Linked DNA regions of Homo sapiens: regions 2 and 3 are each linked to region 1. Evidence: fine-mapped expression QTL. A gene starts in region 1. Each other region holds a variant in brackets. All regions are shown on one strand. Distances are from middle to middle.

Region 1 (8,169 bases):
TGGACCCAGCTCCTCCCAGTAATGCCGGCAGGAGCCTCGGCCCTGGTCCGAGGGTATCGGGACAACTTTTCACTTCCTGCTCTGGGCTCAATGGCAGCTCCAGCTGGGGTCCAGGAGCCCATGAGAGACTTTGAACACCTAATTGTATGGCCCTGGTTTTTCTCCGGGCAAGGCCCGCAGGCAGCAGGCGGGGTGGTGCCGCCACTGTGTGCCATTGTTGCCGGCAGGTGGCCATGGCCTGCGTCTGCCCGGAGCGGCAGTAGAGACCAGCACGGCCCTTATTTGAGGCACTTCCTGCTGAGTGGGTGGAAATGGCCCCGGGGGGTGCAGTCTGTGAGCCAGCACACCCTTGTGCTCCTACCTGAGCCGGGACCAGGGACGCTGGCAGGGGCTCCTGAGAAACTGCTGTGGCGATCAGTGAGAGCAGGTCCCTGCCCAGCATGAGCACAGCTCAGCGCCAGAGCCAGCATCCTCGTGCCTAGTGCCCCAGAAGAGTGGGTGCAGCTGTGGCTGCCTGTGAGCCTTATGACCCTGCCCAGCAGGTAGGATCATCACTGTTTGGCTGGTGCAGAAATTGAGGCTGAGAGGGGAGAGGTCACTTGCCCAAGGTCACAGGTCTGGGACTTGTGTCAGGATTCAAACCTGACCCATTCAACTCAGAGCCTGAGCTTGCTGTGCCTCAGAGATGGCCTAAGCCCAGCATCTCGGCAGGATCCCCGTCCCCGGACCATCGCAGGAACCAGGCGCCCCTCCCATGTGGCCCTAGCCCGGGGGCAGGCCTGCTGAGGCCCGCAGCCAGTGTCAGGCCAGCCAGTATGGCCTGGCTCCCTCCAAGGCAGGAAGGGGGCCACTGGGGTCAGTGCCGTGTTCGGGGTCACACAATGGGGAGAGTGTCCACCCTCCACCCAATTCTCAGGGTTCACCCTCAGATCGGGCTACCCCTGCTCTGGGCACCGGTTTCTGTAGGAACAAGGGTGGCCAGCAAACTTCCCCAAGCACCCAGCTCCCCGTGCCCAGAGGAGACCCAGGAGGCCCTAGGTGAGAGCCAGTGTTGCCTCAAAGGAAGGCACACAGCTCCGGCCTGACCTCCGGCCACTTCCCATAGCCTCCAAAAAGCCATCCAGAGGGAGAAGGAAACTGACAGCCACTGAGGGGCCCGGGAGCCCAAGGGACGCCGAGGACCACAGTCCCTCCCCCAACAGCAGCCCCTGGGAGGAGACCTAGCCAGCCTGCACCAGGGTCCACAGCGAGCCCGGGGCAGCCCTCCACCTGCCCACCAGGGCCTGGAGAGGGCACACCATCCAACCAGCAGGCAGCCCTGCACAGAACCCTGGGAGAAGACCTAGCCAGCCTCAGCTGAACCCACAGTGAGCCCAGGGCAGCTCTCTGCCTGCTCACCACAGCCTGGAGAGGGCACACCACCCAACCAGCAGGCAACCCCGAAGAGCCGGTGACGGGCACATCCTGGCCCACTTCAAGAGGGGCTGGAGGACCGAGAGGGGTCTCAGGCTGGCGATTCACCCCGTCTCCACCCACCTGGGAAATGCTCTGCGGCCCCTCCCACAGCCCAGCACCTGCTCCCTGAGGGGTGTGGGGACTGGAGGCGGGATCACTCAGGCTCCAGCCCAGCCCTACCCCTGCTGTGCACTGCAGCCGTTCCCAGGCAGTGCCCACGCTCTGGGAGGCAACGGACCACTCGGACCCCCACCCCTGCCCGCCAAGCTCCAAGCACAATCTTGGACGCCCCCTCGTGGGCTGACAGCAAACAGATGTCTGGCAGTGAGGGTGGAGGGAGACAGTGGGCGGCAGCACCCTCGAAGACCGGGTCCCCTGAGTGACGGAGAATAAACACTTGAAGAACCGTGCATGTGTCTGGCAGGGCCCCAGGACACCACTGACTGTGCCAGGGACTGGAGGTCACCCCCTTGCGGGAGGGCAGAATAAAACCAGCTCCTCTGCAGAGTCTGCAGCGGGAAGGGACCAGGGCACCCTCGGGGAAGTGCCTGGCCACAGCGGCGGCCGTGTGCACCTGCCCCTCCTCACTAGTCCCTGGCCTGGCAGCCACAGGGCAGCTCGCCAGGACTCCACCGGGAGCACTCAAGGCTGTCTGCTCCTCGGGGGAGGATGAGTATCAGTCCCTCCCAGCTTCGTGGGAGGAGCTTAAGAAATAGATTCTTGGGCCCAACCCCGGATCCACTGAACCAGGACTTTAGAGGTGAGCCTGGAGTCTGTGTTTTAAGAAGCTCCCAGAGGTAATTCTCCTAAATGTGAAGTCTGAGAACTGCCCCTTACAGGGCAGAGACACTGGGCACTGACACCTCTGCTGGGCATCAGGGAGCGGTGGGCAAAGGAGCAATGGCACCAAGTCATGGCCAGTGTTGGGGGACGGGGAGGAGAGCAGGTGTCCCTGGGAGGTCAAGGCAGGTGGCACCTGCAACCCAAATTTGGGTTCTGAGGGATGAACAGGAGTGTGCCAAGTAGGCAAGGAGCTAGGATGTTCTGGGAAGTTTGCTGAGACCCCAACTCTAGAAAAATGGACAAGGATCAGGCAGAAAGGAAAGGTGGGGGCCACGGAGGGGTGCCAGGGCAAGGGGGAAACTAAGAAGTCAGCCCAAGGGCCAGGCCTGCAGTCAGGAGCATCCAGACAGAGCCCTGCGCTTGACACCTGCTCAGAGTTCAGGGTGAGAGCCAAAGAAAATAAGGAGCGAAACTCATGAGCAGGGCCCTCTGCAGCCAAAGCACCAAGGTGAGCTGGGCATTTAAAACCACGCATCACAGGGATGGCAGGACACGGGCCAACGACTGGGCTGGGTGAGGCCTGGGCCAGACTGGGGTGCGGGCCTGACTCAGGGGGCACTGCCTCCCACCTGCAGCCTGTGACATGTCTGCCTGTTGTCCTGAGAGGCCAGAGGGACTGAACTCCCAAGAGGGAAGTCCAGGTGTGTTAAAGGTTGCTTTAATTTCTCCAGAATCACACGAAACAAAAGCCGTGTGTTCCCTACACACTGCCCGCAGGCCAGGTTGGCTTTTGGCCACCCATCGACACCCTGGGGAGGGGAGAAGACTGGCAGCGGGAGCCTAGCAAGGGGGTTCACCAGACCCAGGAAGAGACCCCGTTCCTTCCTCAGCATTCCTCCTTGTCCCTCAAAGTCTAGCTTAGCGCCAGCAAAGAAGAACTGGCTAGGGGCCCCCCTACTGCACAGCCGATCCCCAGGACCCGGCGCTGCAGCCAGCACGGACAGCTGCCTCCTGCCTCCTGCGTCCTGCCCTCCACCCTCACTCGCCCCTTTCTGTTCTCATCTGACACCAGATTCTCTGCAAGCTGCTGGTGTATGGCCCACCCTCCCCTGTCAGGCCCCTCCTCCTGGTGATAGCCAGCAGGGATGGAGGGCCCACTGTGTGCCTGCCCCAGCCTCAGCACCCTACAGCGCTGGACACACTCACTCCCCGCTCACGGGAGCCCCCAGGCACACAAGTCAGCACCCCATTCTGTGGATCCAGAATCCGCAGCCACCCCTCTGCTATGCCACCCAGCCCCGCGTTCTCCTAGACAGGACAGCTGCCCACCTTCCCCTAGGCCTGGCAGAGGCCTTGGAGGCCAACTTGGAAGGGCGGAGGGAAAGGAAATGGAGGTGCTGCATGCTGCGTGAGCCCCAATGGTGGCCCGTGAAGGCCCACAGGAGGGAGCAGGCAGGCGGGAGGTGGGTAGGGGCCTGAAGGGCAGGGGCCCATGCTAGGGGTGGTGATGAAGACCCTGTCTTGCCCACTCGCCCACTGCCTTGTTGGCCATCATGCTGCCTCCCCACACACCAGGTGCTCCTAGGGCCAGCGCTGTGCCTGTCGGTCCCACCGGGTCCCCAGCACCCAGCACAGGAGAGGCTGGGCGCATGCGGGCAGGTGCGAGGTACTGCAGCGCATTCGCGGACTGACCACTGCATGTGCCTGGCCTCCGGCCACAGCCCGACCCCCTCACTGAGCCAGTTTCATCCTGACAGTACCCTGAGGCTGAAATCATTGTCCCCTCTTTAAAGATACGTAAACCCATGAAAGAAAGCTGGACAGAGCAGGCAGGTGACACAGAGGTGGGTGCAAGGTCCTGAGTCCCTCCACAAAGATACAGCGGGTTCCCCTCCAGACTGCAGACAGGCTCCCGGGCTCCAGAGGCAGGCCCTGACCATCCCGGTGCCACGGGCTCACAGGTTCTGAAGTCAGGGGCACCCAGGCACAGAGAGGAAACAGGCCTGGGCACAAGGCAGGCTCAAGGTCACTTTGCTACTGCAGGAAGTGCAGGACTCTGCCTGGGGCTTTGATCCCAAGCAGGTGCCTTCTCCACTCAGACCCTCGTTCCCTTCTGTCAATGAAGGAGGCCAGATGGCACGCGGGCCCTTCCGGGAAGCGGTGGGGCTCCTCCAGGGGCCGCCCTGCGCCCGCTGAAGCGCCGCCCAGACACACCTCCGGACAGGGAAGTGTGCTGGGGCCTCACCCACGCCGCCCTGGGTCCGGAGCCTTAAAATGTGCGCTCGATGGAGGCCATCCGCGAAGGCCGCCATACAGCAAAGGGAACAGAAAGCGAGAGCCCCGCGGCCGCAGGTCCCAAGACGGGGACTCGAACCGGCGGGGAGGCGCGCAGCTCCCGACTCCCTGCTGCTGCGTCCGACCGCCTCTAGGACCCAGGGGAGCGCCCTGAGCGCGGCACCTCGCTGGCCAATGGGAGAGCGCGACGGCGATACATTTGCATGTGGGCGCGCCGCGGCCAATGGGCGGCGGGCGCGCGGGCGCGCGGGCAGGGGGTGGGGCGCTTCGCGGCGGCGGGCGCAGTCTGAGGATGGCCGCGGCCGCGGCCGGTGGAGCCCCGGGCCCGGCCCCCGGCCCCGCCGGGCCCCCGCCACCCGCCGCGCCGACCTCGGCCGCTCGGGCCCCGCCGCAGGCGCTGCGGAGGCGCGGGGACTCGCGGCGCCGCCAGGCCGCGCTTTTCTTCCTCAACAACATCTCCCTGGACGGGCGGCCCCCGAGCCTGGGCCCGGGCGGAGAGAAGCCCCCGCCGCCGCCCGCCGAGGCCCGCGAACCGCCAGCGCCGCCGCCGCCGGAGCCCCCCACCGGGCTGCCCGCCAGGACCCCCGCGCCCCAGGGCCTGCTCAGCCCCACGCAGGTGCCCACCGGCCTCGGCCTGGATGGGCAGCGCCAGAGGTGAGTGGGGGCCCGGCCAGGTCAGCCCAGGACGCGGGGTACAGGGACGGGGACGGGGGCCGGATCAGCCCAGGACTAGGGGTCAGGATTACTTGGGGCCTCATCAGCCCAGGACAAGGGGGTCAGGTGACCTGGGGCCTTGTCAGCCCTGGACAGAGGCCAGGACAAAGGGGTTGGGTTCACCTGGGGCCTTGTCAGCCCTGGACAGAGGTTCAGGTGACCTGAGCCCCTGTCAACCCAGGACACAGGGGTCAGGGTCAGTCTGGGCCCTCATCAGCCCAGGACACAGGGGTTGGGTTCACCTGGGACCTTGTCAGTCCTGGATACAGAACTGGGGGTTCCTGGGCTGGCTGAGGGTTTCCTCAGGCCCTGTCACCCCCCACACATAGGGTTCATTGTCCCCTGAATTCTCCCAGCCCCTGAATACGGGGTCTGGATCTCCACGTTGTCAGTGCTCTGAAATGGGTTTTAGGGTTCAGCCCTTATTACCCCTGAGACCCCCAGCCCTGTGGGTTCTGGACATGCCCCCACCCCCATCCACTGGTACCAGTGCCCGGGACACAGGGACACATGGACAGCCCTGTGCATCTCTTCGCATTCTTTGAACCGGGCCACACCGTCCATGCCCACCTCCTCAGACCCAGCATGTGGGCCGGGGTCCTCCTGGCACTGTCACTGACACCTGTTCCCAGAGGCCCCTGCACAGCCACATCTCCCATCCCACAGCCACTGGTCTCTGGCACCCCTCCTCTCCCTGTCACTTCCCTGCTGAGCCCCGCCCTTCCCCACATCACTCTCAGCTCGGTATCTTTGGGTCTGTCACACCCTGGGTCTCCACTGCTCCCCCTGCCTTGATTCCATTTCTGGGAACCACCTCAGCCCATCCCAGGGCAACCCCAACCATGAGCCCTGCCTGTCCAGCGTGTGCCCCCTGCCCAGATGGCCCCTGGCTGCCCGACACCCTGTGTCCTTCTCCCAGAGACCACAGGACCTGGGTGACCCTGCCTCCCACAGCCCTCACCTCCAGGAGTGACTGTGGGCTCTGGGCCCAGGACTGGCTGCTTGTTGCGGTTCCTTCTCAAAGGGAGCCACTGTCCACAGGTCCAAGTGCCTGCTGGGCGGCTGTTCCCAGAGGCAGCCCCTGCAGGTGTGCAGCAAAGGGGCCGACACAGAGCTCTTGGGTCAAGGCTGGCACGTGCTCCTTGCTTACCTGGAGGTCATCAGAGTTGCCCCACGCCCCTGGCCTTCGGGCAGGTGGAGGCATTGGGTTCCTCTAAGGTCTTTGGTTGGGGAAGTTTGGGCCCAGAACACAGCACTCTGTCCTCAAAGACTATGACGTCACATGCAGGTTGCGTCACACGCAGGTCGCGGTGCACTCCATCCTTGGAAGTGTTCCTGGCCGTAGCCAGGCTGAGGGTGCCTGCAGACCCAGGCCTGTCCACAAGATGTCCCCCCACGGACATGCCTGGCCGCTGCTCCAGGGAGGGTCAGAGGGATGATTGGGGCAGAGGGATGGATTTGCCCAAATGTGGCAGCCAGGCCCCATGCATTTGGCATGGCCAGCTCCTTCAGGAAGGCGGGAGAGATGGAACAAGGTGGTGACTCTCCAGGGCAGAGCGGCAAGGCCCTAAGGTGTGGACTCCAGGGGAAGCGGGCTCACCCCAACGGGCCGAGCTCCGCAGGTGTGGTGGGCTTTTCCCTAACCCCGGGCCCTGTTGTTTGACATGGAAACAGCTTTCTCCCTCAGTCCTGCATGTTGAGTGTCCAGAACCGGATGGTGACACCAGGCAGACTGGGTGCTGTCATAGGCCCTCCTTCCACAGAGTTCATGCACCCCTGTGTGCACCAGGCCTGGCGTGGAGTGGAGCCCACTTGAGTGGAGGGAGGCAGAGCGTGGCGACGCGCAGGGAAGTGCCTGTGACTGAGAAGGCACCCCCTGCAGGCCCAGAGCCTCCATGGTGACAGTTCTGAGCGCAGCATGCTGCCCACGTGCAGCACATCCCTGCCCTGTGGGATTGTTAGAAGGTGCGCTGTGGCCGGCATCCCTGGGACAGGATGGGACGTGGCATGGGCTGGGTGCCTGCAGTCCTCCTGCCGTACCCACCATGGGCCCAAGCGCCACCACCCCTTGCCTTGCCCAGGGCTGTCTCCTCCCTTCCCTCCTCCTTGGCCCCCATGTCCCTGTTCAGGTCTTTCCTGAACCCCACTCTGTTCCTGGAGGGGGAGGCGTCCCTCCTGGGGCTCTGCTGCCAAGTTCGTGGTGCTGACCTTGTTTCTGAGGGCCATGGCCCCTCCCTGATAGGTAGACCCCAGCGTGAGGACGTCCATTTCACCCTGCGTTCCCTGGGCCTGGCTGCTGATCGAGGGAAGGGTGGCTGCCCCGGCAAAAGGGGCTGCTAGCTCCTGGCTTGAGAGTTCTAGGATGAGTTGGTTTCAGGAAATGGAGAGAATTCTGAAAGTCCTGAAGGCAGCCCTGATGTTGGTCTTGTGAGTGTGGTGGTTTGACCTGGGCTCTGGGAACAGACTTGGCTTGGAATCCCAGCTGCACTGTTCAGTACCTCTGTGACCTTGAGCAGGTGACATGGCCTCTCTGAGCCTCAATCTCCTCTGAGAAGCGGGTTCACACTAAGCACTAAGCATGGCCTCCCTGAGGTCAGAGGTCAGATGCGTGCCCAGGGCTTGGTGAGGTATGTGGCAGGAGTCAGTGTGAGATGAGCAGAGCCTCTTTTTTTTTGAGACAGGGTCTCTCTCTGTCTCCCAGGCAGGAGTGCAGTGGCGCAATCACAGCTCACTGCAGCCTCTACCTCCTGGGCTCGAGTTATCCTGTCTCAGCCTCCCAGTAGCTGGAACTATAGGCACACACCACACCCTGCTAAGTTTTTATTTTAGCAGACATGGGGTCTCACTATATTGTCTAGGCTGGTCTTAAACTCTGGCTCACGTGATCCGTCTTGGCCTCCCAAGTGCTGGGATTTCAGGTGG
Region 2 (8,169 bases), 600 kb after region 1:
CTTAGGTTTGAAATCAAAGTGGGGTTCTGGAAGTGAGGATTCCTCAGTGACTGGCTGAGACGGGGTGATTTTGAACCCAGGGCTGGGGTGGGGCTTGCAGCTCTGTTCCTGCCAGAGCCACGGTTCTGGGCCCCCGCAGCCTTCCCCAGGCTGTGGGGGCCCAGTGCTCAGCTAAGGAGGATTTATTTCCATGCTGCTTCTGTGTGGCAGGGGCATGCTGACCACACTTGCTGGTCTCAGCTCCCTTGTGCCGGGATTCCCAGGAGCTGGATTACTGGTTCATTGTCAGGGCTGGAGACGTGTGTGGGCTCATCGCTGCTATGGCAGCTTGCCCTGAGGCGGCACCCAGACCACCCAGCACTGTGCTGGATCGCGCTGTGCCTGCATCCCGCCAGGCCCACAGCCTGCTGCCCAGTGGACGGCCTCTAACCTAACGAAAGCGACAGTACTGACCATCCTGCATGGATATGTGCTGTGTGCAGAGACGTCCTATCACTTCCCTTCCTATATTTCAGAACTCCCAGCTAGCTGGGCCTCCTACTGGCGCCAGGCATTTTCCGAGTCGGTTTGTTCATCACACCGTTTGAGTCTGAAGAGCCGTCCACAGTTCCCCAGCTGTTCTCACAATCTTCTGTTTACCTCCCCGAATGCTATTTGGCCACCACTCTGTGGCTGGCCTCACACCAACCAGCCCTGCACGGAACACCTGCCCTTGGTCACACTCCCCTCGCTGATGGTGGACACAGCTGCACCTTGACGGGGAGAAAGGGCTGCAACTTCCCAGCCGGGAGGAGATGGAGTAGAAAGAGGAGGGAGATTTCCAAATCCAACACATTGAACTTGAATAGCCTCAAATTCCGACATTTAGGTACCCAGACACCCTGTTACGAGAAGCTGAGGGTAAACTCTACAGCTCAGGGAATCCTCTCCCACCGCCCACTCTCCTGAGATCCAAAGACCCCAGCGGGGCCACAGCAAGGCTGGGTCTGGCCCTGGTGGTTCTGAATACAGCTCCATGGACTGGACAACACCCAGTCTCTACAACATCACTGACTTCCTTCCCCAGGGCAGTTCTCCCACAGGCCACTCCTCTGTCTGGCAGGACCCACCAGGCACCTCCCGAGGCCCTCCCGGCACCTGCCCCACTGGCCTTGCAGCTGGGGGCTGGCGGGGCTGCGGGGCCCTGGGAGCTCATAGATCAGGGGATGAGCGAGACATTTTCAAAATCATCTCCTGTGTCAGTTTCTTAGCAACCCATTATTAGAGGGCTTTGTAGTAGTTAAAAAAAGATCCCCTGTCAAAGTGTAGCTGTGATTTGGAGAAGCCCCCATCTCTGTACCGTGCATTACGGGAAAACCTGGAGTGCAGCGGCTCTTACCCAGGTCCTCCAGGCCCTGTGGCCACCCCTCCCCAGCAGGAGACAGGAACAGGCACAAAACACCACCCCCAGATGCTGACACTTCCCACTCACAGAGACGGTGTGCACATGTGTGTGGCAAAACATGCATGTTGATGAACATGTCCCTGATGTCTGCTCACAGCAGCCGTGGCAGGGACCAAGGTTTCCTCCTGTGTCCTCACTTCCCCCGCAGAATTAAACAGCCCCAAGGGAAAGGTGAGGCAGCTCCTCCAGCAGCCCCTGAGCAATTCCAGTCCGGCCTCTGCTACAGCCCCCACCCTCCACCTGCTCCGATGGTACTGCATGTGTGTGTGCGTGCGCGTGGACATGTGTGTGCGTGCGCGTGGACATGTGTGTGCACACGTGTTCCTCAGATGCTCACTTGGGTATGGAATTGCCTCCCCACTCCCTTTTAACAGGGCACCTCCTCACCCTGGGTGTGCACGGCCGCACAAACTGTGTTTCTGGTGCCCTCCTGCAGGCGAGTGGACGGTCCTCCCCGTGTGTTCCTAACCCCGTGGGAGGTGGTGGTGCCTGGTCTCCTTGTCCTGGGCATGAGGCTTTGGGTAGGCTTCCTTAGCCCTGTGGACGCCCCCCTCCTCATCTCTCCAGTGGTGACAAGAACACTCCACCCCCAACCAGTCAGGCAGGCAGGCCACGACGCCTGGCTCTGACATCTGGGAAGACGCAAGGGTCCTTTTGGCTACTAAGAGGTCACTGCCGCACTGTCCTACAGAATAGGCTGTTGCCTAGAACAGACACACATGTGGAATTCCTTCCAGAATGACATCCTGCAGCCATTCTAAATGTGCCCCGAACCACAATGCTTTCAGTACTGGGTGCCACAGAGCGGAAGGAGCCCCCAGGCGAGGTTTCCTGCCTTCCCCTTGCCCCAAGCACCCACCTCCCAGCGGGCCTGCGTAGCTTTCCACAGCACCACAGTGGACACCGAGTGAGTGATGGTGGGTCTCTCCTGAGCATATACCTACATAGCTGGCAACTGCCGGGCAATGAAGATCCCATATTTTGGCTCTTTCTAAATTAAATCTGCTTTGTGGAGCTCTGGCTGTGACAACTCATGCACCCACCACAGGGCTGGATGATCTTGGGGTGATGGCCGGTGTGAGAGGGCCCCTCCCTGAGTTTGTTTTCCACGGATGATCAATGAGCTTGAGCATCTCCCAATACACTGCCCTGGCCTCGTGGGAGTTTTAAACATACCTCTGCCATGCGGTAGGTTGGGTGGCATCAGGCAGTCGAATGCTCCCCAGGTGATTCTGACCTGGGGTGGGTCCGAGACCCCCGGGCAGGCTGCCCTCTCTGTGCTGCACACAGGAGCCTGTGTTTCCTCGCAGGAGGGCGAGTGTCTGAGGCCGGGCAGGGGAGTGTACCCTCTGGATCCCGGAAAGGTTGTGCCTGGCCGGAAAGGTGGCCCTGACCCTTGCTGGCCTTTATGGTTATGGGGCTCGGGTGTGGCTCTGTGGGACACCCAGCCATGCTGCCCACCTCCATCTGCCAACACAGAGGCCATCCTGGCCACTTCTCAGCAGATGCCTGTTTGTTTTGCTTGCTCACTGTCCACTGTCCACTCTCCCCTCTTCTGGGGACAGCACCCCAGGGATCCTTAGGGAGCTGTTCTTCTCTGCTCCTCTCTGTTCTAGTAGCTTGGGTAGGGATGGGGGGCTGGGTCAAGGACTGGCCAAGCAGAGCCTAGAGTCTTCTCAGCACCGTACCGGCTTCCGGCTGGGCATATGAGCCCATCAAAGCCAATGAGTCACTCCCAAGATGTTTGCTGGAATGACAAGAAGGAAAGGACCTCTCTTTCCACGAACTTGGAGTTACTGGGATGCACTCTTGGCCTGGCGCTGGGGCTTCTGTGGAGACCGGGGCTAATGTCAAAGACGGCAGGTCTGCGGGATGAGGGGAAAGCGCCTGCTGACTCTGGCATTGTCTGAGCGCCTAGATCCTGCCGGGCCTGAAGCTGACAGCTCTGTATGTTCCGTTTATGTGCCCCATAAATCTTGCACTTTTCACTGGCCTCTGCCTTTTAGAGTTGGCTTCTGCCCCTTGCAACAGATGAGTCCTGACTGTTCTACTCCAGACCTCTGAGCCATCTCTTCTTCTGGTTTCGTACTTAGATGGTGATGCCTCCACACGGGGACTCCCCTCTGGACTTTCCCTGCACTTCTGAGGCTACGGCCACTCCCTCCCCTGGAGGATCCCCACACTGAGGCAGCAGAAACCTGACACACCCACCAGGCGAGAGCTGGGCAGGTCCACAGAGGAGACAGGAGGGATGCTCAGAGGGGAACCCATATGGTAAGGAGAGGGCAGGACCTGGAGGCTTCAGGAGGAAGGGGGACTGAGTGCTTTCGGTGTGGCTCAGAGGTCCAGACAGCAGAGCTGCCCCCCGGGTGTGGCTGACCTCCAGGTGACTGGTGGCCAGCAGTGGGTGAGGCCGAGGCCAGATGCAGAGGCTGGACGGCGGAGAGGGG[T/C]GGTCAGACAGCATGGACAGTGGCTGTGCAGGGGACAGCTCTTTGCCTCTCCTGTCACTTCTACCCGCCTCGGTCCTCTGTCTCCTCACCTGCACCATGTGGCTGGTGACACCCGTCTGGTGATGCCTCAGAGACAAAACAGAACCTGCAGAGGCCAGCCCCTCACCTGAGGGCGAATCTCCAGCCCCGTCCTCAGCACAGCAGTTCGGGCGGCTCTCAGGCCGCCATGCAGGCAGGACCGACATCCTGCAAACTGCTGTTTCCACCACCTGCTCCGGGTCCCAGCTTGACACGTTTTCTGTCGTGCCTCCTTACCAACAACAAGCTCGTGTGGAGAGCAGGCGCCTCTCTCTTGGCAAGAACATTTGTGAGTTTGGCAACTTCCTTGACAAGAGATACTTGCTAAACACAACAAAAAAGTTTCACTCGTTTCTGCTTCCATTACCTCCGCCGTCTCGGCACCGCCTCCTGGAAGCAGACGCAGCGGGGGCCGGCCTCACGCTCTGCAGCGATGGAGCCTGTTCTCGTTTCTCCTGTCCTTCCTGGGTGGCGTGTGTTTTTCAGTTTTGAGTTTTCTAAGCTGCAGAGCCACTGGAAATGGAGCTTTTCTTACAAATGACTTTCACTGACAGTTTATAAACATCGAGTGATTTGCTAGGGCTCTGGGAAGCACACAGTTGAACGTTTCCTTCCAACCTCCCTTGGGGAACGCAGAGCTCTGGGCGCCCCCTTATCCTGGCCATGCAGAGTAACTGGAATCCCGCAGCCTCAAGATGCCCCACCCTCCAGGCCACCAGGCCTGCGGCTCGCCCGCGGTAGCAGAACTGATTCCTAATTTGGATGGATTCCATTCGCTGGAGGATGAACTCAGAGGGGCAGAGATTTCGGCTCTAATCCCCCGACCAAAGCTACCTTAACATGTAATCAAGTTACCATTTCATATTTCCAAATAAAGTTGAACAGTTGAACGAAAAGATTTCATTTGGGAGCCAGACTTAAATTTAAATACCGCCCGTCTCTTGGTATTAGGGAGTTTTAGACTTTCAAATAACCCAGCCCGGGGAAATTGGGTTGGACAGCCTCTCTGGCCGCACTTCTCTGCCTGGCTTCTCTAACTGCCAGCCCGGGCGGATTGTGCCGAGCGTGGAGAGTACCCAGGCTGCTCCCTGCCACTCTGAGAGCATCCAGAGGAAGACCTCAGCCCGTCCACAGCCGCCACGACGGGACCCCACAGCACATCGCGGACACACCGTCAACGACGGAGCTGCGACTCGCCGCGCTGCTGAGACAGGGCTGGCCGCTCTACAGGCAGGCAATTAGCAGTGGGGGCGTGGGAAGGAGGGGAGCGCTGTCCAGACCTGTTGGTAAATCAGGCCCCGGCAGTGACAAGGTAGACACGCCGCCTCCTCTGCCTCCCCAGCTGCCATGTTGGAGAGAGCCAGACCCAGGATAAACAGAATTCGGAGAAGCCCCTCCAGCGAGAGCCAGCCTGCGACTATCCCGCAAAAGGCAGCAGCCAGGAGGACGGGGAGGAACGCTGCATGCACCTGTGAAGCCTCTGTGGACGGCGGTGGCCACAGACAGGGCCCCGTGGTGGGAAGGCCCGGTTCCTCCAGCCTCTCCTCCCAGGCATCGCCCCGTCTAGGCCCAGGTGGCACCTGTTTCCCCCTGCCCGGCCCCCAGGCTGGGAGGCAGCTCCCAGGGCTGCGCTCTGCCTTTTCTCCATTTCCTTTGCAGCCATTCTGCAGTGAAAATGGCTGATTTGCTTGAAGCAGCAAGCGAAAAACCCACGCGTGGACTCCCGTTTGGAAATTGCTCCCAACGGAGACAGTTGTTTTTTTTTTCCCCAAGTAAGTTTTCCTTCAAAGCGATGCTCTGCAGAGAAATTCCTTTCTTTACAACTAACTCAGAGACAGTGAAAACAGGGACGATGGGGCCACCCCCACGATTTTGGGGGAGCTTCAGTTTCCTCACATACTTTCTCAGGCACAACTGACCCCCACGAGGTTCTCGGCTACACACAGCAGGGTGGCTGCAGGGTGGGCTCTTTAGTCTGACTTTTGGGGTTCAAAGCCCAGTTCTGTACTTTGAGCTGTGTGACCTTGAGTGAGAATCCTGACCTCTCTGAGACTGTTGTCTCTGCTGGGAACAGAGCATGATCAGGGTGTGTAGCGCCCTTTCTGGGGCTGCCACAGGGGCTGAATGAAGCCGAGGAGGGGTCTGCCTGGGCCTGGCTCCAAGGAGGTGCTCTGTGAATGCAGCTGTCTTTGGCATCCTCGTTTATAAGAGAAAGGTGGGGAGGGCTTGAGGACATTGCCGGACAAAGGGGCAGAGACCAGACCTGATTGAGGCCCGCTCTTGCGCCACTTACAGGTCTGGGAACTCCATGGCATTCTCTTATGGCAGCAAGGCTGGCTGAATCCGGCTGCCAGAGACATCTGGGTTCTCATCCTGGGACCAGTGAATGCCACCTTCCATGGCAAAAGAGAGTTTGCAGACGTGATGGAGTGAAGGATCTTGAGATGAGGCCCATCCTGGATTTCCCAGGGGCCCCTCAAGGCCATGTGAAGGGTCCTTATGGAGGGCAGGAGAGGGAGCTTTGACTACAGAGGAGAAGGTGATGTGGAAAGAAAGCAGAGAGAGGCTGGAGGAGGCTGTGCTGCTGCCCTTGAAGACAGAGCAAGGGGCCAGGAGCCACAGAGGTGGGGCAGGAGCCTCTAGAAACGGGAAAGGGCAGGAGATGGGTCCTCCCCTAGGGCCTCCAGTGGGAGCATGGCCCTGCTGACCCTTGACTTTGACCCACAGAAACTAACCTCTGACTCTGACCTCCAGCACCATGTGGGGCTACACGGGGCTGTTCTCTGCCACCTGGTTTGTGGTGATTTGTGACAGCAGCTCCCGGCAACTCACACAGACAGGGAGTGACCACTGAAGGAACACCTACTTCGGCACTTCAGAGACACAAAGAAGAGGACAGGTGGCTTCGGGATGACGTCTCAGAACTCTGAGGGTCCATGGCTTTAACCACACACACCAGTGTTTGTGGTTGATGCCCTCAACCCTAGAGAGACGCTTGGCTGATGCGGCTGGACACCCTGGCCCTGCCCAGAGGCTGCCTGACCCCACTCCCCCAATGTCTAGGTGTCGGGGGACCACCCTGCTTTCTGCCGGCTCTCCCGCTGCAGCCTGCAGACACTGAGAGGTGCTGCTGTCCATGCCTTTTGTCCCCAAGCCCTCAACACCTCCCAACGGGAGGCAGGAGCCCCGGTGCTGTGGCGTCTTGAGGACTAATGTCACTGCAGAAGGTGGGTTTCTCAAGCCCCCACCGAAAACCAAGCCTGGGGTTGCAGTGCCCAAACTGACAGATGAGAAGGGGACAATCAGTGCCCCTCGTAGCTGCCCCCAACCAAGATGCTTGGAGGGTCCCAGGAGGGCCCTGCAGCCATGCCCAGGCCTACCCTATGTGTGGCGCAGATGGGCCCGAGGCCACTGTGGAGTGGACACTGGCCATTCTCACTGGTGGGCTCTAAGGATGTGGAGTGCCAGAGGTTACACGCCCCAGGGTCCCCAGTGGGCCTGTTATCAGGCAAGGGAAGGCAGGGAGTTCCAGCCCATCTGTCTCCCAGCCCCGGCCCCTTGGGGTGTGTCCAAGAGGCCATCTGTGCTCTCGGCCTGCCTGAGGCTCTGCCTTGAGCCGGGCACTGCCAGCACTTCCTGTGAGCCCCCTGCCCATATCCTGGGGACTTAAGGTTGTCAGGTCCTAAGGGCAGGCAGTGGTCCTGGAGCTGAAGGGCTCACACTGCAGCCCCGCTCTGCCCTGTCTTGGCTGTGTGTCTTTGGGCAGGTGTTTTACCCTCTCTGGGCTCCATTTCCTTTCTGTGGGGGGCGATGAGGAGATTCACAAGGATAGTGGTGGGAGAAGCACCATCCCCCGTGGAGCCATAAGGTAAGAGTGCAGCAAATGGTTGCAGTGACAGTGGCCCTGAAGCTGGGTCAGCCCTGCGGCGGGCATGGGACTCTTGGCGTAGTCTAAAGGGAGTGCCCAAGGAGGGGGCAAAGAGTCGGCTACGCAGAACTGCCCCTGCCCGGTCATGGGGCGAGGAGCTCTGCCCCCCTGGCGGCCGGGCAGCTTCCCAGAAGCACCGTGTGTGCACTCGAGGGAGTGCGGTCTGGTCTTCGGGGCTTTGCAGCACTCACAAAGGGCCCTTGGGGCTGCAGGCCGCTCGCTTGCTTGCACACAAAGAAGATGCAGCCCTGCACAGGCTTCAAGGAGGG
Region 3 (8,169 bases), 30 kb after region 1:
TCATTGTCACCATCACCACCATCGCCATCACTATCACTATCATCACCACCACCATCATCACCATCACCACTATCATCACCACCATCATCATCACTATCATTATTGTCATGATTGTCTATCACCATCATCACTGTCAGTATCATCGTCACCACCATTGTCATCACCATCATCATCATCTTCACCATCATCTTCACTATCACCGTCATATCCACCATCATCGTCACCATCACAACCACCATCACCACCAACACACTGTCACCATCATCACCATCATCACCATTATCAACATTGTCATTGTCACCATCATCATCATAACCACCATCGTCACCACCATCATTGTCATCGTTATTATGCCCAAGATCACAAGACTAGGTCTGGATTTGGGGCTGTTGACTCAGGAGGCCACACTATAGCCACCCCAATCTCACACGGGCCCCTATTCAGGATGCCTGGGCAGGTATCTGTGCACAACAGCCCTGGCTCTGCTCTCCAGCCCCTCCTTCAGGCTCACCTCACAGGCAGGTAAACATGTTCTCAGACATGCTGTGGTGCGGGCTGGGAGAAGAGCCTCCCTCCTCCTTCCCAGAGCAGCTGTTTCTGGGCCAAGCAGGGCCCAGGCCAGCCCCAAATGCATTGTGTGTAGAAGGGAACAAGCCCAGAACAAGGAAATCCTCCTTCCAGGCCAGGGAGGTGGGTGTCCGGGTGAGTGGCAGGTCAGGGCCGTGGGATGGGCCTTCTCCTGCAGCGAGCCCGACACTGAGCTACAGCCACCAGCCCCCACTCCTGCCCCAGATAGAACCCGCTCTTGGGTGAAGGCTACGATAGCCAGCCTCAGAGTGGGACTTATGGGGTGTGGGGAGAACACGGACCTGGCCATGAGCTGTCAGGGGATTCCTGGGGCACTGCCTCCTAAGCCATGACTCGACATCCTCTCGTCTTGGAGAGACAGAGGCAGTAACAGCCCCGCCCCAGGTTTGCAGAGGCTTAAGTGAGGTCACCAACGTGAGGGGGAGGCCCAGCTGCCCGGGAGCCCTGGAGACTGTCACGGCATTTGTCACAGGGACCCTGGGAGTGTTGGGCCAGCGCATCTTTCCATTTCGTGCCATTCAGTTTTACTTTAACTCACTTTACTATTTTGTTTTTTGAATTTATTTTACTTGATGAGACTTTAGAATTTTTACATTGAGGGAGAACCTACCTATGAGAAAGTGCCCAGATCCTGAAGGTCCCACCCCTGTGGTCACGGCAGGCACTGGGTCAGAGCCTGGGGGTCCAGGGTACCTTCCCCACCCCCCTCCCCAGAGGCTCCTCATGCCCCTTTCCAGGACATGGTGAAGACAGGCAGAGGGGCTGGGCTGGCCGGGCCTGGGCACTGGGTACTGGGTCCCACCGTGAGTCTCCCTGGAGTACAGGCTGACCCAGCAGGGAGACCCGGAGAAGTCCTCTCCCCACACCTCCTGGGGGCTGGCTGAAATCTGAGCCAAATGACAGGAAAAGAGGCACTTCCATCCCAGTGGACACACCAAGGGCTCCCACGCTGGCCAGGCGCCAGGCCAGCTCAGCCAAACTGGTTCAAAGAAAGGAAGCTGAAGGGGAGACCAGAAGCAAGGCCCACTCTGCCTCCAGGACCAGGCCCACCTGGGGCAGAGACTGGGGTCTGTCCCCACCCGGGACCTGTGGGCCTGTATCCTGACCTGGGCCCAAGCTGACCTCTGACCCCAGCATAGACGGATCCCCAGTCTCGGCTCCAGGCCAACTTCTTTTTTTTTTGAGACAGAGTCTCGCTCTGTCCCCCAGGCTGGAGTGCAGTGGCACGATCTCAGCTCACTGCAAGCTCCGCCTCCCTGGTTCACGTCATTCTCCTGCCTCAGCCTCCCAAGTACCTGGGACTACAGGTGCCCGCCACCACGCCCAGCTAATTTTTTGTATTTTTAGTAGTGACAGAGTTTCACCATGTTAGCCAGGATGGTCTCGATCTCCTGACCTCGTGATCCGCCCGCCTCGGCCTCCCAAAGTGCCAGGATCACAGGCATGAGCCACCACGCATAAGCCACCACACCCGGCTTTTTTTTTTTTAAGACGAAGTCTCGCTCTGTCCCCCAGGCTGGAGTGCAGTGGCGTGATCTCGGCTCACTGCAAGCTCCACCTCCCTGGTTCACATCATTCTCCTGTCTCAGCCTCTCGAGTAGCTGGGACTACAGGCACCCGCCACCATGCCTAGCCAATTTTTTTTTTTTTTTTTTTTTAGCTGGAGTTTTGCTCTTGTTGCCCAGGCTGGAGAGCAATGGCGCGATCTTGGCTCACCGCAACCTCCGCCTCCCGGGTTCAAGCGATTCTTCTGCCTCAGCCTCCCTAGTAGCTGGGATTACAGGCATGTGCCACCACGCCTGGCTAATTTTGTATTTTTTTTTTTTTTAGTAGAGATGGGGTTTCTCCATGTTGGTCAGGCTGGTCTCGAACTCCCGACCTCAGGTGGTCCGCCCACCTCGGCCTCCCAAAGTGCTGGGATTACAGGCGTGAGCCACCGCACCCGGCCTCCAGGCCAACTTCTGACCCCAGGCCCCAGCATTCCGGAGCCAGGGCAGCACCGTAATTAAGGCAGAGACCTGGGAATCAGGCCTGTTTCTGGTGCCACCTCCACACACACCCGGCCCTTCTCCTCCCTGAGCCTCAGTTTTCCCATTTGGAGGCAGGACCGTTCCTCCTTCACCGTGGGTGGAGGGGAGGATCCACAGGGAAAGGGACTGCCAGGGACACCGTGAGGGGTGCACTATGCAAAGGCAGTGTCGCGTCCACACGGGGTGCACCTGCAGACACAGAGAAAAACTAACTTTTACTTTTGCTGCTGTTTTCCTACTGAAAATGGGCCACCTCTGGCTGGGCGCGGTAGCTCACGCCTGTCATCCCAGCACTTTGGGAGGCCAACGGGGGCAGATCATGAGGTCAGGAGATCGAGACCATCCTGGCTAACACGGTGAAACCCCGTCTCTACTAAAAATACAAAAAATTAGCCGGGCGCGGTGGCTCACGCCTGTAGTCCCAGCACTTTGGGAGGCTGACGGGGGCGGATCACGAGGTCAGGAGATCAAGAGCATCCTGGCTAACATTGTGAAACCCCGTCTCTACTAAAAATACAAAAAATTAGCCGGGCGTGGTGGTGAGCGCCTGTAGTCCCAGCTACTCGGGAGGCTGAGGCAGGAGAATGGTGGGAACCCAGGAGGCGGAGCTTGCAGTGAGTGGAGATCGCACCACTGCACTCCAGCCTGGGCGACAGAGTGAGACTCGTCTCAAAAAAAAAAAAAGAAAAGAAAAGAAAAAGAAAATTAGCCACCTCTGTCTGCCTATGTGTCCAGGAAGGGGCCTGGGACTGGCTCTCGGGGCCTAGCTCCTCCTGCCCTCTGGGAAATGTGCAGAATGTCTAAGCCAGCAAGCAGGCATGGGAAGGGAGTGGCCGGCCGGATGCAGGGCTCCATGGAACAAGTTCCCCAGTGCCAGGGCAGGACAGCAGGGCCTGGAGAGCCATCATCAGCAGGCTCCATCCTTCCACCTGTGAACTGTGACCTGAGAGGAGCCACCTCCTGGGAGGCCCACGAGGGGTCCTGACCAGCAGCCTGGCACCTGCTGGGGCCACGCAGAGACCCCATGGCAGCCTGCGGGAAGGGCAGTTATCATCCCATTGACAGAGCAGTGACTGAGGCCAAGCGGGACGGAGTCGCTTCCCTGGAGTCATGGAGGATTCGAGGGCCCGGCATGCCCAGTGGGAATGGCGGGATTTCGGGCACGGCACGTCCAGAGGCAACGGTGTGAGGCCCCCTCATTTCTGGAGCCCTGCTGGCGCCCAGCCGGGAGCCTGGGATGGGCCCCAGAGGAAGGCGGCTGGGACTCCTGCTCCACCCCCACCTCCCCGAGCCCATCCCAGCTGCTTCTGAGAGCGTCGGGCTGGACGTGCCCGCACGGCAGAAACAGGCCCAGAGACGAGGCTGTGTTTTGC[T/C]TGAAAGCCTCTGCGGAGTGATGGAATCCACATTCCTGCCCCAGGTGAGTCGCCCAGGCTTGTCTTGCTCAGCCTGGCTCTCCCAGCTCCTCAGGGTTCCCAGCCACTCAAGGTTCCCAGCTCTGTGGCCCGGCTGGAGCTCCGAGGCCCTGGAAGTTCTTGTGGGACCCAACAAGCCCCTGAGGGGCAGCCAGAGGCCCTCATCTGCTGGGACTCCTGCAGGTGGCTCCGCAGGGTCACAGGTCGCCCTGGGCCCTGGGGCCACAGTGAATGGATCCTAAGGCTGCCCTGCAAAGGGACCCCAGAGAGGGGATGGGGTTGCACCCCCGGGCCGGCCACTGCGTGCCATGCAGACCTCTCAACCGGCCATGCTGGTGGGAGGCGCCCAGCAACTGGCAGGGCCCAGGAGGGTTCCTGCCAAGAACCTGGCACCCGGCCTGGGAGTCAGGCAGAGCCGCGGCCCCCACCTCCCTCCCACAGCGCCACCACCTCTCAGCGCTTCCTGGGGCCCCTGCCTCGGGGTGCTTTTGCCCACTCCCCTCAGGGGGCCTCACGGCCACCCAGCAGGGAGGCACCATTGTCCCTGCTCAGCACTTGAAGCCCTAAGACTCTCCCAGGCTCCCAGCCAGGGAGGCACTGAGCCAAGACTGGGCAAGGAATGGGCCAGGCCCACCAGCTCCCCAACCATCCGGCCAGGACACAGGGCAGCCCCTGCCTGACTGCTGTCCCCAGGAGCCTGCACCAGGAGCCAGGAACCATCTGAGCTCCAGGCCTGCATGACAAGGCTACATGAGAACCAGTATTGATTCATTTCATTCATTCACTCCACAAACACAGGTGCTCCTCGACCCTCCGTGAGGCCACGTCCTGATAAACCCGTGGTAGGTTAGAAATACCGACAGCTGAAATGCTCTAATACACTTAACCCACGGAACATCACAGCTGAGCCTTCTTGCCTTATACACACTCAGCACACTTCCATTAGCCTACAGCTGGGCGAAGTCATCCCCCACGAAGCCTCCTTTATAATAATGCATCAAATGCCTCACGTAATTTGTCCAATGCTATAAGAAGGAGAAAAACAGATTGGTTGTGTGGGCACTGGAAGTACGGTTTCTACCGAACAATTGCAAATCAGAAGCCGGGAACCGTAGAGCACAGAACACCCGTCATGTCCACCCGCCATTTCCAAGCCCCGTGCTGGGTACAGGCGCTCCTTGGTGCGTGGAACAGACAGCCCTGTGCCCAGGGAGCTCGCAGCCTAGGACGGGACAACTGGCATCCCAGGAGGGTGTAGGGCTGTGAGTCTCACCGGGGAGATTCAGCCCCGGGACATGGGGCTACTCAGAAGATATTTTTGGTTGTCACGACTGGAGGGCAAGTGCTTCTGGCCTCTTGGGAGTGGGGGCCAAGCGGCCCCACCTCAGGTCAGTGTCCAGCCAGACTGTCTGACCAGCGCCTGTTGAGGGGCTCTGAAGGGCCATGGCCCGGATGAAGGGGCTCCAGGGGCAGGGTGGCCAGGGAAGGCCTCTCTGAGCAGGGGACTTTCACAGAGTGAGCGGAATTGAGATGGCCCGGTTCCTCTGCAGGTCCCCACAGCCTGGGAAGAGGAGAATCTGAGAGCACGGCCGCCTGGGGGCAGGCCGAGGCAGGCGGATCCTGAGGGAGCAGCCGCCTGGTGCCAGGCCTGGGGAATTCCAGGAGGCAGAGGCCTCAAAAGCCCTCCTCCAGGCTCCGAGTTCCCAGCAGCCCCTGCCACATTCCTCCACCTGGGTGGGCAGGGGTGCAGGGGCTCAGTGCATTCCTGGTGGAGATAGGGAGGCCAGCCTGCGGCCTGCGCCAGCCTCCTGCGGGGCCTGGGGAGCCCTGTCCAGGCTCTGCCGAGCTCAGCATATTGGAGCTGAGCCAGTCGGCCTTTGCTGGAACACTCAGGCGGAGGTCGCCTTTCGCCTTTCTGTGTGGGGAGAAGCCACTTGCAGATAAGGCAGGGATTCACCAGCTCCGGGGGGCTGGCAGGACATGGCCACACTTCACCTGCAACCAAGCCTCCCCATCTGTAAAATACAGATAACAAGGGGGCCAGGCGGTGGCTCACACCTGTAATCCCAGCACTTTGAGAGGATGAGGCCTGTGGATCACTTGAGGTCAGGAATTCGAGACCAGCCTGGCCAACATAGTGAAACCTTGTCTCTACTAAAAATACAAAAATTAGCTGGGCGTGGTGGCGAGCACCTGTAATCCCAGCTACTCAGGAAGCTGAGGCAGGAGAATCGCTTGAACCCGAGATGCAGAGGTTACAGTGAGCCGAGATCGCGCCACTGCACTCCAGCCTGGGCGACGAGCAAAACTCCATCTCAAAAAACAAAAAAAAACAAGAGCAGGTCCCTCGCAGGAGATGGGAGCCAGCTCCGCGCCCGGCCTGATGTCGGCTGCACGGGCTGCCTGGCTCTCCTGCACAGAGGTGGGAGGGAGGCACGGGGGGGCCCAGGTCAAGAAAACACAACCCCCACATGTTCAGGGGGCTGGAGGTGGGGGCTGCGCCTCTGACCTGAAGCTGCCCAGCAAGCCCTTTGTGGAGCCAGGAGCAGGCAGTGGGCAACTGGGCCGACAGGCCCTACCCTGGCCGCCAGGAGGCTCCGTGGCAGCTGCTCTCTTGCACGCCATCCCCACTGCCACTCCCGGGTTCTGAGAGAGAGCCCCATGGGAGGCCACGCACAGACCCCTGACCTGGCTGCCGGGGGTGGTCCAGATCCCTTGCGAGAGGAAACGTGGGCCCCCAGTGGACCCCAGCACCATCTGTGGTCAGCGGGAGCCTTCCAAGTCTCCGTGTGTTTACATTCCCCCAGGAAATAGCTCCCCAGAAGAGCTGCAAATATTTTCTTAATGTTGGAACTTGTGGCAAACAGAGGCCTGGAGTGGGCCCACCCACACTTTGCCCCTCCACACATCGGGGGCCCAGTGGGATCCTGGGGTTACCTCCTCACCTGGCCCACCCCCTCCCCCTCCCCCTCCTGGCAGGGGACAGGCACATGGGGGCCCAGCTGGGGCATCTTCCTGCCGGAGCTGGGGCAGCCAGCCCAGGGGATTCAGTGGCACTGCCATCCTCCCACCTTTCAGCCTTCCTTTCGTGAAACTGGGCTGGCAATAGGTGGAGGTGGCTGAGGTGTTGCTTGGCGGTTTGAATCAATGAAGACCCTAGGGGACGGGGGTCAGGCCCTGGACCTGCCTAGTAACTCAGGCTCCTGGCAGACCGGGCTGAAGACAGAGGCAGCTGCGGGGCTGTCTCTCCCGCCCCAGGCTGAGTCAGTGTGTAGGGCTGGGTGTCCTGGGTATGTGATGGCCCTAAACACAGGCCCCCACCTCTCTGTGCATGAGCACAGGTCCAGCTGGTGTTGGCAGGCTGTGTGGGTGGCCCATAAGCACCAAGAAGTACCCTGCTTCTACTGACCTCCACCTGAAGACTCCCAGGCACCTGCCCGCCTGAACTGGCTCTGCAGGCTCACTCAGCATCCACGTGCTCCTCCCTCTCCCCCTCCACACTGGCGAGGGGCCAGTGGCCATGGCACATCCCAGGCCTCCGGTCCCTGGTCCCTGGGCAGCCCCTCCAAGAGCCTGCCTGTACAGAGTGCCGCTCCTGTCCACTGATGTCTACTGTGTGGATGGACCACGTTTCTCTCCCCAGTCGACCCTGGATGGCCGTTCGGGCTGTTTCTGCCTGATGGCTCTGGTGCCTGGCGCTGCCGTGCGTGTTTACCCACGAGTGTCTGTGCAGAGACGTGTTTACGCTTCTCTCTGCAGCTACCAGGTGTGGAGCTGCTGGGCCGTGTGCAACTGTGTTCAGTCCTTTGAGGAACCACCAGCTGGTGTCCTAGCAGCTCCCACACTGGACACCACACTGGTCCCCGCAGGATCCTGCCTGTAGTTGTTATTGTCTTATTTCCTGATTCTGTTGGTGGCTATAGAGTGAGGATCACGGTGTGGGCCTCAGGCGGGCATAAAAAGAGGCTGGAGTCTGGGCACTGGGCCCTTGCCTGCCACGCCTGGTGTGGGAGGATGTGGGTCCCGGGGCAGTGGGAAGGTGACGGGAGAGGGGCGATCGGTCATTCAGCCACCATCGTCCAGCAGCCCAGCGCTGGGCTCGGACGCAGCAGTGAGCACACGGAGCTGCCTCTGCCTTA

The links. PIP is the estimated chance that this variant, and not a neighbour inherited with it, causes the effect.
Region 2: its variant is fine-mapped to the expression of CABLES2 in iPS cells (iPSCORE, PIP 0.95).
Region 3: its variant is fine-mapped to the expression of CABLES2 in unexposed skin (GTEx, PIP 0.99).

Annotation. Positions count from the first base shown.
Region 1 is chr20:62,403,933-62,412,101 of GRCh38, reverse strand. CABLES2 (Cdk5 and Abl enzyme substrate 2) reads left to right here and starts at 4,817. Exons shown (of 10, transcript NM_031215.3): 1 at 4,817-5,187. The coding sequence starts at 4,826. RBBP8NL (RBBP8 N-terminal like) reads left to right here. Exons shown (of 14, transcript NM_080833.3): 14 at 1,106-1,865. The coding sequence ends at 1,224. It overlaps LOC105372709 (a long non-coding RNA gene), which reads left to right and starts at 5,208. Exons shown (of 2, transcript XR_936967.3): 1 at 5,208-7,212. RefSeq lists an enhancer at 1,359-1,418 and a silencer at 4,651-4,900.
Region 2 is chr20:61,800,120-61,808,288 of GRCh38, reverse strand. All of the region lies in intron 4 of CDH4 (cadherin 4), which reads right to left. Among named protein-coding and RNA genes, the nearest start is that of CDH4-AS1, 49 kb to the right of the region's middle. RefSeq lists enhancers at 4,648-5,168, 5,169-5,689. The variant T/C (reference allele first, on the strand shown) is at 3,895.
Region 3 is chr20:62,374,146-62,382,314 of GRCh38, reverse strand. It overlaps LOC105372708 (a long non-coding RNA gene), which reads left to right and starts at 3,488. Exons shown (of 2, transcript XR_936966.4): 1 at 3,488-4,035; 2 at 4,829-8,169. RefSeq lists enhancers at 351-1,031, 3,705-4,306, 6,715-7,316, 7,317-7,920. The variant T/C (reference allele first, on the strand shown) is at 3,992.